Homo sapiens: one gene and its partners. The protein of the gene in region 3 interacts with the protein of the main gene of each other region in a pairwise test. Each region holds a gene or a part of one and is shown on either strand. Other genes may lie near its edges. The genes, in order: HSD17B4, HAO2 and ACOT1.

Region 1 (3,649 bases), on a different chromosome or scaffold from region 3:
ATATTTTATTTCTTGGAGTAAGATTCAGGTTATGAGCCTGGTAATAATTTTTGAATCATGGGGCTATGAGCTGGTATCTGTAACTTTGACTGATTGGAGAACTTATTTACTGGTGGATCAGTTAGCCCATTGCTGCTCTGAGTTGATGGCCACTTATTTTATTAGAGTGTTTCATGAAGTTGGGAGGAAGACAAGAAATATGTGCTGGGCAGTTTGCTGTTTCATTCACACTCCCATGGTTAGTTACTATATACTCTGAACAATGTAAATGCAAAAAATTAAAACAAATGTTTCAAAATTCCCCCTAACAATTGGAAATCGTAAATGGTGTTCATGCATCTTGGAACTTGAATCCTAGTCTTCTTAACCTTGACTTTTTCAAGCCGTATGACACAGTAAAGCTGACCTTCATTTGTCTTCTCATCAACCACCTCCCCTTCTTCTTCTTCCTTTTTTTTTTTTTTTAAAATCCTTTTGGGTTCTGAGGAAGACTGGTAAACTGGCCCTCTGCAGTGAAAGTGGGATCATTTGAGTGTATGCTTCAAGTTTTGGTTTTCCTGTCCTGTTGTTTTCCTATATACCTTGGTGCATTCTTTGTTTGATACATTGAGGTTAAGTGGCTATTAAGTTACACAGTGTCCTTAGTATCTACTCTTTGTAGATAATTTACAAAGTATTATAAGAAAGGGATATTCACATTGACAGTGCTTTCATTTTGAACATGGTTGTAAGGTTTTTCTTTGTGTTTTAGTTGTGTCGTTTGTATTTGGTATATGTGACCTGAAATTACTAGCACTGGCGCATTTGTTCATTCTTATTCAATGAATATTTATTGGATGCCCAATATGTTCCAGGCACTGTTATAAGTTCTGGGAATACAGCCTAGTTTATTGTCTCTTGGCAAATAATATGTAATTAACAGTCAACAAGGCTTTATGAACGCCAAGAAAGAACACAAATATATCTTCTCTGCTCCAGAAGAGCTGACTGTCTTGAGATTGGGGGATTGATTATTTTTCAATCACATGATTAAGAAGAAGCCAAACAGAGATAGATAACTTGGAGAGAAATGTGAGCCTGTGGATGGTAAAATGTCACTTGCGAGTAACAGTATCCATAGGCAGAACCTGTGGAGCAAGAAAGTTTGCTAATAAAATTTTGTTTACCCTAACATAGGTTCTTCATGGAGAGCAGTACTTAGAGTTATATAAACCACTTCCCAGAGCAGGTGAGTTATTGATATACTAATTCCATAATACCATACTTTTATTTCCAGATTAACCTTTTAAACAACATCAGTGTGTTAAACTGGTATAGAGTGACCTAATGAAACATATCACAAATTGTTATGCACATGTGAGCCATTAGAGTAGACTGATGTTAACTAGTATCTGTTTTGGTCACCTTAAGCTTTGTCCTTTAATAGTCTTAAAAATTTATTTCATAATTTATCTCTGTTGATGTATGTGTTATTAACAACTGAAAGGAACGTTCGTGTATGTGCTCTAGACTTAGTGATTGCATATAATCTGTTATGGTTCTTATGATTATTGTTCTTTTCTCAGGTATTTATCTTTATACTGATTTTCATAAAGCAAACAATGTTAAAAGATACAGAATTTCTTGTAATTCATTTTTTTCTTTTTTTTTGGAGAAAATAAAAACAAGTCTTTAATAATCATTTTTACTTTTCTCAAAAATATCTTACTTGTTTAGTAAATCTCTTTTAATTTTTTTCACTATAATTGGATATATTTATTTCTCTACTTTGATGTTTGAATGTTGTCTAATTATATACTGGTCATATAAGGTGGTAGAATACAAAAAGGAATGTTTTGTTAATATTTGTCATTTCATGTTATACAATGTAGAGGTCGGCAAGTAGCTAGAATCCTACTTGAATATTTTTCTTAAACCTTTTTATTTTTCTAAAAAATGTATGAGATTTTTATTGCTTGAAGCTGAATAGCTTTATTTCAGTGTAAGTATTATAGCATAAGGTTTCAAAACAGCTCTTTTTATGTGAAACAGTACACTTTGTGGTGATTGTGCATTGATCAAATATCTGCTGGATACCCAGTATTTGCAAGGCACAGTATTAGGTAGTAGGTAATTTTCTAACCTGTCTGTATATCAAAATCACCCGAGTTATTACATTATATTATCTGTTAATTTAAGTAAAATGTAGATTCTCAATCCCAACCTTGGAAATTGTGTGTGTGTGTGTGTGTGTGTGTGTGTGTGTGTGTGTATGTGTGCATGTATGTATGTGGTGGGGTGGTGGTGTTGGTGACAGTGGCTAGGAAGCTCCTTACATGTTTCATATGTACCCAGCCCTATGGGTCCACTTGGAAACCATTGTTATAAGGGAAGTAGAAATGTGCAAGATAGGTTTCTGCCGTTAGGGATTTTAAAATACGAAAAGAGAGATTAGATGTATACTCCAGAGTGATGATAACTGAACAGTGATGTGAATAGGAAGGTGTAGAGAATAACTTTTTCATTTTTTTTTACCTCCTTAGCCTCAAGTTATATTTCTCATGAATTATTTTTTCTCAGCCTGTGCATTTTCTTTAAGCAGTTTTAAAATTTACTGTGTAGTAAATGTGAATGTTCAAAATATGAGATATTTGTGGTTTGGAACCTTTTAAACTGCAGAAAACCAAGGTCACGACTACTGTTTATAATCTACTACTGTTTATAAAACACACCAATTGATGAGACACAGAGTGTCAAGCATCAGGAGACTGATAACAACATCTCTTAATGGCTCATTTGTTGGCTATAGTGGTAGTGTCATAGGCTGACTTACCCTAATCATGTTAAAAATAACCACTAGAAGGAGTGAAGGAACGCAGCAGTACTTTCTTTTCTGTCTGTTTTTTTTTTTTGGTTTTATATAAACTTTATTATTTTAAAAAAGAATTTTAACTTTTATTTTAGATTCAGGAGGTACCTGTGCAGATTTATTACGTGGGTGTATTGTGTGATGCTAAACTTTGGGATATGAATGATCCCATCACTCAGGTAGTGAGCATAGTACCCAATAGGTAGTTTTTCAGTTCTTGCTCTCCCTACTCTAGTAGTCCCCATTGTCTGTTGTTCCCATCTTTATGTCCACGTGTACCCAGAGTTCAGCTCCCACTTGTAAGTGAAAACACACAGTATTTGGTTTTTTGTTCCTGCATTAATTCACTTAGGATAATGACGTCCAACTGTATCCATGTTGCTGCGGAGCACATGATTTTGTTCTTTTTCATGGCTGCGTAGTATTCCATGGTATATATGTACCACATTTTCTTTATCCATTTCACCATTGATGGGCACCTAGATTGATTCCATGTCTTTGCTATTGTGAATAGTGCTGCAGTGAGCATATGAGTGCATATGTCTTTTTGGTGGAATGATTTCTTTTCCTTTGGGTATATATCCAGTAATGAGATTGCTGGGTCAAATGGTAGTTCTGTTTTAAGTTCTTTGAGAAATCTCCAGACTGCTTTTCATGGTAGCTGTACTAATTTACATTCCCTCCAACAGTGTATAAATGTTCTGTTTTATCTGCAGCCTCACCAGCATCTGTTATTTTTTTGACTTTTTAGTAATAGCCATTCTGACTGATGTGACATGGTATCTCATTGTGGTTTTGATT
Region 2 (4,194 bases), on a different chromosome or scaffold from region 3:
CCTTCTGGAAGGGAGAGACAGAGTCGGAGTCTGGAAAACAGCAAGGGAGGGTCTGGATCAGGGGACTGTGAGCAGGCCAGGTGTTGTGAGAGCTGACCGAGGACATGGCCTAGAGGCTGATTATGGAGATTGTGAAAATTGCTATGGAAAAGAAATTTCCAGAACCCAGATTTTGGCTACTTTTGAAAGCATTTTTGAGGTAATACTGTCCTCTAGTGGCTAGATAGCAGGTAGGGATTACCCTCCAAATAAATAGCCAATGAGCCTTGAGTGGAGATGGTATGACAAGTCAGTGGTAAATTCATCATTTTGCTCTCTAACTACAGGTTCTAAAGGAAAGGCAAACCCCACTGCTATGGTCATCGGTACAGCTCAGGATTTCGGCCTCCTCTGCTCCGTGTGTTGGCTACAGGCTAGGTTCAAATCCCAATTCTGCTCTTTACTGCTGAAAGGCTTTGGGCATGTTCGTTAATCTCATTTTCTCTTCTGAAAAAGAGACAATCTTGAAAAGATTGACCTTCCGTGAAGATCAAATGAAGTAATGCGTGTAGTGTGTCTGGCACGTCGTAAGCGCATCACACACGTGAGCTGTGGCAATACTAAGGAGCAGTGGCAAGAGCTGGGGGAGGAGTGGAGACGAACAGACCTGGACAAATTAGTGACCTTTCTGGGACCCCTACAGAACTCTTCTGGAGAAATTAATTCTATTTTTCCATGTACTTTTAAGTTTGCTTTTCCTAGCATTTCTTCTACATTCCTGAATAATTTTCCACTCAAAAATTTCACTGGTTCTCCCTGACTCCCATATTAATCTAGACATAATTACTTCCCCAGAACAGTTCTGTGGGCAGGGAGGGCTCTACACTATGCACCCTCCAAAATCCCCAAAGCTCGGACCGTCCTGGCCTGGGTCCCCACTGCTGTCCTGCCCATGGGCTCCCAGGCTGTGCTTGCTCTTCTCCCACCCCAACCCCATCACCACAAAAAGCCCCTCCTCCAACCCGGGGACTTTTGTAATTTCCTACCTGAAATCATCCACTCCCTACCTCTAACAATCTGTGATGAGCAGAGGACAACATCAAGTTTGAATTTAGAGGTAGGGAATGGGTGATTTCAGGTAGGAAATTACAACTTCACTTTGAAGTTTAATTTTGTAATAAACTTCACTTAATTTTGAAGTAAATTTGCAAAGTCAGCAAAATTCTTTCAAAGTCAACCTTGCTCTGGCCTAGTTGCTTATTTACTGCTAAGCTGGATGTTTTCATTAAAAGATTAACTTTGAGACTTCAGCCTCTTCTTTAGCCTGAACTGTGGGTAGTGATGTGGTGTGTTTCCTAACACCTCCGGCAGTGAGCCAGGCTTTGAGTGGCTGCGTCTAAACACTTCTTTCCCTGAGGACTGGAAGACATTAGAATAAGGTTTGTCATTGAGTGTGTTCTGTGTGCTTGGAACTGAGAAGGGTGATGAAGTGCCAGATAGGATGGGAATGGAAGATATCGTGGAAGCCAACTATGAGTTTGCAAGGCAAGGACCTTGGCAAAGATGGTCCTAGGGAGACAGGTGTTAGGGAACTCAGAGGGCATGGGCAAAGGAAGATTTGGTTTCAAAAAGGATACAGACAGAGAAGGTTAAGTCTAGGAAGTTGAGTCTTAGAATTGTATGGTGGAATATTCGTGGGTGTCCATAGGAGGAAAAATGGGTTAAAATGTTTTCACTTGACAGCGTTCTGAAAACCTAAAAGGTATTGCTATTGCCTTCAGGGATATATTTAGTATTCTGACCACTGCTTCCCGGCCACAAGCAAAAGAAAACAGTGACATGGCTATGCTCCTAAAAAAGTAAAGAAGTTAATGTGTCTCAAACAATGTAGTTCCTTTGAGCAATAAGCTTATTTGGAACAAATGGGTTACAAAGTCCCACTAATGAAGAGCCTCTGATTGTGTTAAGTTGAATCTACAGATCAACCTGCGGAGAACTGCCAAGAACGCTAATGAAGACAGGGAGGTACTGGTATAAAGATAGATAACAGATCAATGGAACAGAATAAAGCGTCCATTAGCAGGAAGCAAAATCCGCAAACTTTTATTCTTAACTACTACTATATTCTGCATTTTACAAGATCCTTCAATTCTCACAAGATCCCTATGAGATAGACAGTAATAACCTAATTTAAAGATAGATGAGAATTGGAGCTTGTCTAGAATAGATTGAGTGGAACATCACTTGTGGTATATCATTTGAGAGGTAATGGGAATATTGCCAAATTCCCAGGTAACTCTCCCCTCAAAGGGACTCCTGTTGTACTCTAAATCGTATCAGCTATCAAATGATGAGCTATGAAAGTCTGTCTTCTTCGACTGTAAGCTTCTTGAGAGCAGAAACTGATGTGATAAAGGTCCCCCCCCATATCTCTAGTGTTTAGCATAATACTTTGATATATTATGTTAAATCAGGCTATGTTATAGTAAAGAATAAACCTTAACAACTTAGTGAGATAACACATAAATATTTATTTCTTCCTTACACAATATCAGCTGATCTCCAGGGCTACCCTTTTCCAAATGGCGTTTTGGGAATCCAAGTGGCCTTTCTCTTACAGCTTTGCCTTCTTGAGGATGGAGGATCGCTGTAGAGGAGGAAACAAAGCTGGAGGGTCACATACCAGCTCTTCAATCCTTGGCCTAGAATTCACACCTGCTATTCCCACTCCCAGGCCATTGGCCAGAAGAACTAGTCACAGAGCCATGCCTGTATTTAAGCAACAGCGAAATGTTAAGCATGTGGGGAGCAGTATATGCCTCCGCCACCCTGGCTGAGAGTGTGTGTCAATAAACCTTCTTGGATAAACTAATGAGTAAATCTGACAGAGGGTTTAAATTATACTATGACAGAAATACTCAAATCCTGAAGCAGCTTTCCACTTCCAGAGCCTCAGATGAAATCACACATGTCATCAACAGGAGGAATAATGAACATGGAGCTGCCTTTATTAACAATCTAGTCTATACAAGGCACTGTTCTAGAAATTTCAAAGGGGCCATACTGCTTAGTCCTCATGGCAGCCCTATGGGATGGATGTTAATATTCTCCTTTAACAAATAAATTTTGCACAGAACCGTGGTGAGCCAGTAGTAGAGCTGAGATTTCAGCCTATGTTTGCCAAGTGCCAAAGCTTATAATATAGTCTGTCTTCTCTACTCCACTGACTCCCTCAGTCATTAGTTCCTTGGGCACAGTTGATCGGTGGAAAGCAATGGCCTTCAGAAACACAGTCTGGGTAGTTGCCGTAGACAGAGAAGCCAGGAGGAAGGCAAAGAGAGAAAAAACTGCACTCCATAGCTGGGCTCTTCCATCCCCAACTGCTCTGCCTTTTCTCCTCTCTCTCCTGCTACAACCCAGTGATTGCCACTGTGAGATATAGGTACACCTGCAAGACCTGAAGTCACTAGTGGACAGAGTAGACGTCAGAGCCTGTTTTGGAGCTTTGTGTGAATTCTGATGTCTGTTTTGCACATTCTATCCTTGTTGAGCAGATGAAGAGGCAGGTGCAGTGATCTCACAGTGTCACATAGAACTCCTTTCCCAATGGCCTGGATTTTGTGGGAATTGACCAAGCTCATTTTATGCAACTCTCTGACCATTCAGAACAGAGACTTAAATGTCTCCCCCATACCAGTAACACTCCATACTGGCTCAAAGACATTGGAAACAAGTCAGAAGGATTCCAGGTCAGGCTTTGCCATTTCTGTTGCATTAGCTTGGATACTCACGTGAATTATCCGAGCTTTAATGTTTTTATCTATAACATGGGGCTCATACATACACTCTCTGATTGCCCACTGGATTGTTGTAAGCACCAAATGGAATAACGTATAGAAGAGTGCTCTGTAGACTGTTAAGACAGATTTAAACATAAGAAGTTATTTTTTAGTGATTGGCTGAATAATTAAGATTTTTTTTAACTTTCTGATTGAGTTATGATTTTTTGAGGGAAGAAAGCAAAGTTGCATATGTCCATGACATTTTAATCCTCTAAGGTCCGTGCCAACTCTGTCATTCCATAAACCACACTTGGCTGTGCCCATTTTCTTCTTTCTATAGTGCTTAAGAGCCAGGCCACTGGAATCGTGACACATTACTAGATATGTAATATTGAACAAAGTATTTTAACCTCTTGAACTTCAGGTTTCTCAC
Region 3 (4,303 bases):
TTATATCTAACTAGTAATCAGTTTATAGGCAAGATGTTAACTTCCATTCTTAAAGGAGAAACTCAAATCTGATATACTTTTTATATTATGTGCTTTTCTTCCACAGTAGGTAATCATTTATTTATTTAATTAATTTATTTATTTTTGAGGCATAGTCTTGCTGTGTTACCCAGGCTGGAGGGCAGTAGTGCAATCTCAGCTCATTGCAACCTCTGCCTCCCGGGTTCAAGCAATTCTCCTGCGTCAGCCTCCTGAGTAGCTGGGACTACAGGCATGCGCCACCACGCCCGGCTAATTTTTTGTATTTTTAGTAGAGATGGGGTTTCACCATGTTGGCCAGGCTGGTCTCAAACTCCTGACCTCAAGTAATCCGCGCACCTTGGCCTCCCAAAGTGCTAGGATTACAGGTGTGAGCCACCACGCCTGGCTCACTTATACTCATTCAGCAAATAATTATTGAACTCCATTTACGTACCAGACACTGTTAATTGATGTTACTCACTTTTCCTTTCAGAACTAAAGCCTTATCAGTTGTGTGTTGAGATAGGAAGAGGAGACTTTTTCCACTTCTTGTGTTTCCTACAGTTACTCCCTTCCCAAACTGATAAAGTATACAGTTTATAAAAATCTTAAAAACTCATTCTTACTGGTAAATTCATTTTAATAATGAGGGGAAGAAACTTTAAGAAGTTATGAGAAAGAATGAATACACATACACACACTAAATGTGGCAGATGTTTCCAGGAGAGATTAGCAACAGAGAGGCCACATGATCAAATAAAATTTACACTTTTGATGGGATTGTCCCCTCGTGGCCACCCAAGTGTTTGTGGAAGAAAGTCTGGAGTTGTTTCCAAGCATCCACCTGAGCCATGGCATGAGCCCTGGGCTCCCCTCCCCAGATAATAGGACTGCCCACCAAGGCATGCAGGGAAGCCCGACACAGGGGGAAGTAAGGAGGCTCAATATAGTGCCCTGTCTCTGGGTAACAGATGATCTGGGGCTTTCTCCTCCCATGGGCCTGCAAGCGTTTACAGGCCTCATTAGCATAGAACTCACTCTTCCAGTTGTGGTCATCCTGACCTACCAGGAACAGGAAGGTGCTCTCTGCCCTTTCCACAGGAATGAAGCTCTTCTGGTCAGGTCCTTCCAAAGGGCTGTTCAGGACATCCACAATGTCTGCATAGCCATCTTTGGTCACCTTGATGCGATTTCTGTTGACGCCCACAGGGGGCAGGGTCTCGCCCTTGTAGCGTAAGGTTCCCCCAACATTGGCCACAGAGCCGTTGATGACGACAGCAGCCGTGATGCCCTTCAGGAAAGAGGCCATGGAAAGGCAGAGCTCACCCCCTTTGGAAATTCCAAGCAGCCCAACTCCTGGACCTTTTACCTGAGAAAGGGACAAAGGAAAAAGAAGAAGAATGGCTCCACAAACAGTGGAATATGGTGAGTTGTGCCCACCCTGGAAGTTAGTTGAACCTGAGTCTGAATCTGGGTTCTACCATTTACCCAGATTTGCAGCTTTGGGAATTTACCTCCCCTCTATCTCTTCCTTTCCACAATTTGTCCATCACCACTCTTGGTGATAACCATGTGGAAGATCTATCAATTACTCTGGTTTCTCAGTTCCTTAATCTCATTATCTCCCATGATCTTTTTCTGTCTCCCACCTGAGCCACCCATTCCCACTGTCATAACTAAACTGAGTCGTCATCAACAAGTACGTCATCTCATGGCCGGGCGTGGTGGCTGACGCCTGTAATCCCAACAGTTTGGGAGGCTGAGGCGGGTGGATCATTTGAGGTCAGGAGTTCGAGACCAGCCTGGCCAATATGGTGAAACCCTGTCTCTACTAAAAATACAAAAATTAGCCAGGCAGAAGTGGCATGCGCCTGTAGTCCCAGCTACTCAGGAGGCCGAGGCAGGAGAATCGCTTGAACCTGGGAGGTGGAGGTTGCAGTAAGCCGAGATCATGCCACTGCACTCCAGCCTCGTTGACACGGCAAGACTCCGTCTTAAAAAAAAAAAAAAAAAAAGAAAGAAAAAACATACTGGAATTTAAAATTGCATAATACCAACTACAAATATCTTTACTAGCAGGAAATATAGTAATATAGAATTGAATAGAAACTGTCTATAAGAGGCCAGGTGTGGTGGCTCATGCCTGTAATTCCAGCACTCTGGGAGGCCGAGGTGGGCAGATCACTTGAGGTCAGGAGTTTGAGACCAGCCTGGCCAACATGGCGAAACCCCATCTCTACTAAAAAAAAAAAATACAAAAATTAGGCTAGGCATAGTGGCTCATGCCTGTAATCCAGCACCTGGGGAGGCCAAGGCAGGTGGATCATTTGAGGTCAGGAATTCAAGACCAGCCTGACAAATATTGTGAAACCCCGTCTCTACTGAAAATACAAAAATTATCCAGGCATGTTGGCAGGTGCCTGTAATCCCAGCTACTTGGGAGGCTGGGGCACAAGAATCACTTGAACTTGGGAGGTGGAGGTTGCAGTGAGCCAAGATCGCACCACTGGACTCCAGCCTGGCAACAGAGTGAGACTCCATCTCAAAAAAAGAAAGAAGAAGAAGAAGAAAGAAAGAAACTGTCTATAAGAAGTGACTAAAAAAGGTAGTGTGTGTTGGGGTAGGGAATGGCTGTCATGAATGAGCTAACTTCTGTGAAAACCCAGACCATTTAAGAAGAGACCTGATACATCATAGCCCATAAATCTGAGAGAAGAACTCACCTCAGGATGACTGAGCAAGTAGTTCACAGCTTCTTCAAAGTACTCCAGATGGAGCGTCTCCATGGTCTTGGGGAGGTCTTCATAGTTATAGTAAGCCAGAGCCATCACAGCAAAACCCTTCCCAGCCAGCAGACTAGCCCGATACTCCAGCAGGCCACCTCCAGTTCCGAACATGTCCACAATGCCAGGAAAGGGCCCAGGTTCTTGGGAAGAAACAAAACAAAATGCAAAACTAAGCTATTCCTGAAACAGTTGGATGGTTTCTTACCAAGTTAAACATATACTTACCACACATGTGACCCAGCAATCCCACTCCTAGGTATCTACCCACGAGAAATGAAAACCTGTGTTCGTCCAGAAACTTCTGGCAAGTGTTTATAGTGACTTTATTCATTGTAGCCAAAGACTGGAAACAACCCAAATGTCCTTTAACTGGTGAATGAATCCATTTAATGGTGCACCACCAAGAAACAAAAAGAAAGACTGCTACATAGAAGAGCACAAATTCCTCTCCAGTGCACTCAACAGAATGCACTTATTCAATGGAGACAGACTCAAAAGGCTACTCATTCTGAATGACTCCACTTACTGAATATTTTTATCATTTACATTAAAGGTTTTGTGTTTCACACAAAATTAAAGAATAATAATGCAGGCTGGGTCTGGTGGCTCACGCCTGTAATCCCAGCACTTTGGGAGGCTGAGACGGGTGGATCACCTGAGGTCAGGAGTTCGAGACCAGCCTGGCCAACATGGTGAAACCCCATCTGTACTAAAAATACAAAAATTAGCTGGGTGTGGTGGCGGCCACCTGTAATCCCAGCTACTCGGGAGGCTGAGGGAGGAGAATCGCTTGAACCCGGGAGTTGGAGGTTGCAGTGAGCCAAGATTGTGCCACTACTCCAGCCTGGGCGAAAGAGCGAGACACTGTCTCAAAAAAAAAAAAAAAAAAAGAATGCAAACACCTTACAGGCAACACTTTTAAGACATAGTTCAGTGCTGATACCCGCAAACCATCAACGTCCCACAGACCCCTGTGCCCTTTCCTCTCTTTCCAGTATCCTGGACTTTCTGTGTATCACTCTTGGTTTTCTTCATAGTATTACCACTTAGATTATGTACCTTAAACAATATTTTATTTTGCCTATTTTTTGAACTGTATCTAAATGGAATGATACTGAATGTGTTCTCCTAGTGTTTGACTGTTTCACTCAACAGTGGTTTGGAGATTCATCCATGTTGATTCTTTTTTATTTTTTTCTTTTCTTTTGTATATCTTGATAGATGTTGATTCTTCTAGCTGTAGTTCAATCACTTTGACTGCTGGAAATATACCTCAATTTATTAATCTGTTCTATTGTTGATGGACATTTGGACTGTTTCCAGTTGACTTTGCTCTTTTTTTAAATTAATCCAGACTGCTCATCTGCAATGGCTTTCCTCTTATAAGGAATATGCCTCCTGGTGCACATGTACAAGTAGAATAACATATTTAACTTTGTAAGTTAAGACAAATTGTTGCCCAGAGCAGATGAATATGTTGACTCCTTCTAGCAGTG

Evidence for each region.
Region 1: the proteins of ACOT1 (region 3) and HSD17B4 come close enough for resonance energy transfer, tested with the Homo sapiens proteins (one large-scale study listed by BioGRID).
Region 2: the proteins of ACOT1 (region 3) and HAO2 come close enough for resonance energy transfer, tested with the Homo sapiens proteins (one large-scale study listed by BioGRID).

Annotation. Positions count from the first base shown.
Region 1 is NC_000005.10:119,500,865-119,504,513, forward strand, and holds part of HSD17B4 (peroxisomal multifunctional enzyme type 2), read left to right. Parts: intron 1-1,176; coding exon 1,177-1,228; intron 1,229-3,649. UniProt on the Homo sapiens protein: Bifunctional enzyme acting on the peroxisomal fatty acid beta-oxidation pathway.
Region 2 is NC_000001.11:119,367,485-119,371,678, forward strand, and holds the start of HAO2 (2-Hydroxyacid oxidase 2), read left to right. Parts: upstream 1-1,300; 5' UTR 1,301-1,418; intron 1,419-1,461; exon of another isoform or gene 1,462-1,524; intron 1,525-2,599; exon of another isoform or gene 2,600-2,847; intron 2,848-4,194. UniProt on the Homo sapiens protein: Oxidase that catalyzes the oxidation of medium and long chain hydroxyacids such as 2-hydroxyhexadecanoate and 2-hydroxyoctanoate, to the correspondong 2-oxoacids.
Region 3 is NC_000014.9:73,540,137-73,544,439, reverse strand, and holds the end of ACOT1 (acyl-coenzyme A thioesterase 1), read right to left. Parts: intron 3,154-4,303; exon of another isoform or gene 3,139-3,153; coding exon of another isoform or gene 3,033-3,138; intron 2,948-3,032; coding exon 2,745-2,947; intron 1,391-2,744; coding exon 785-1,390; 3' UTR 644-784; downstream 1-643. UniProt on the Homo sapiens protein: Catalyzes the hydrolysis of acyl-CoAs into free fatty acids and coenzyme A (CoASH), regulating their respective intracellular levels. More active towards saturated and unsaturated long chain fatty acyl-CoAs (C12-C20).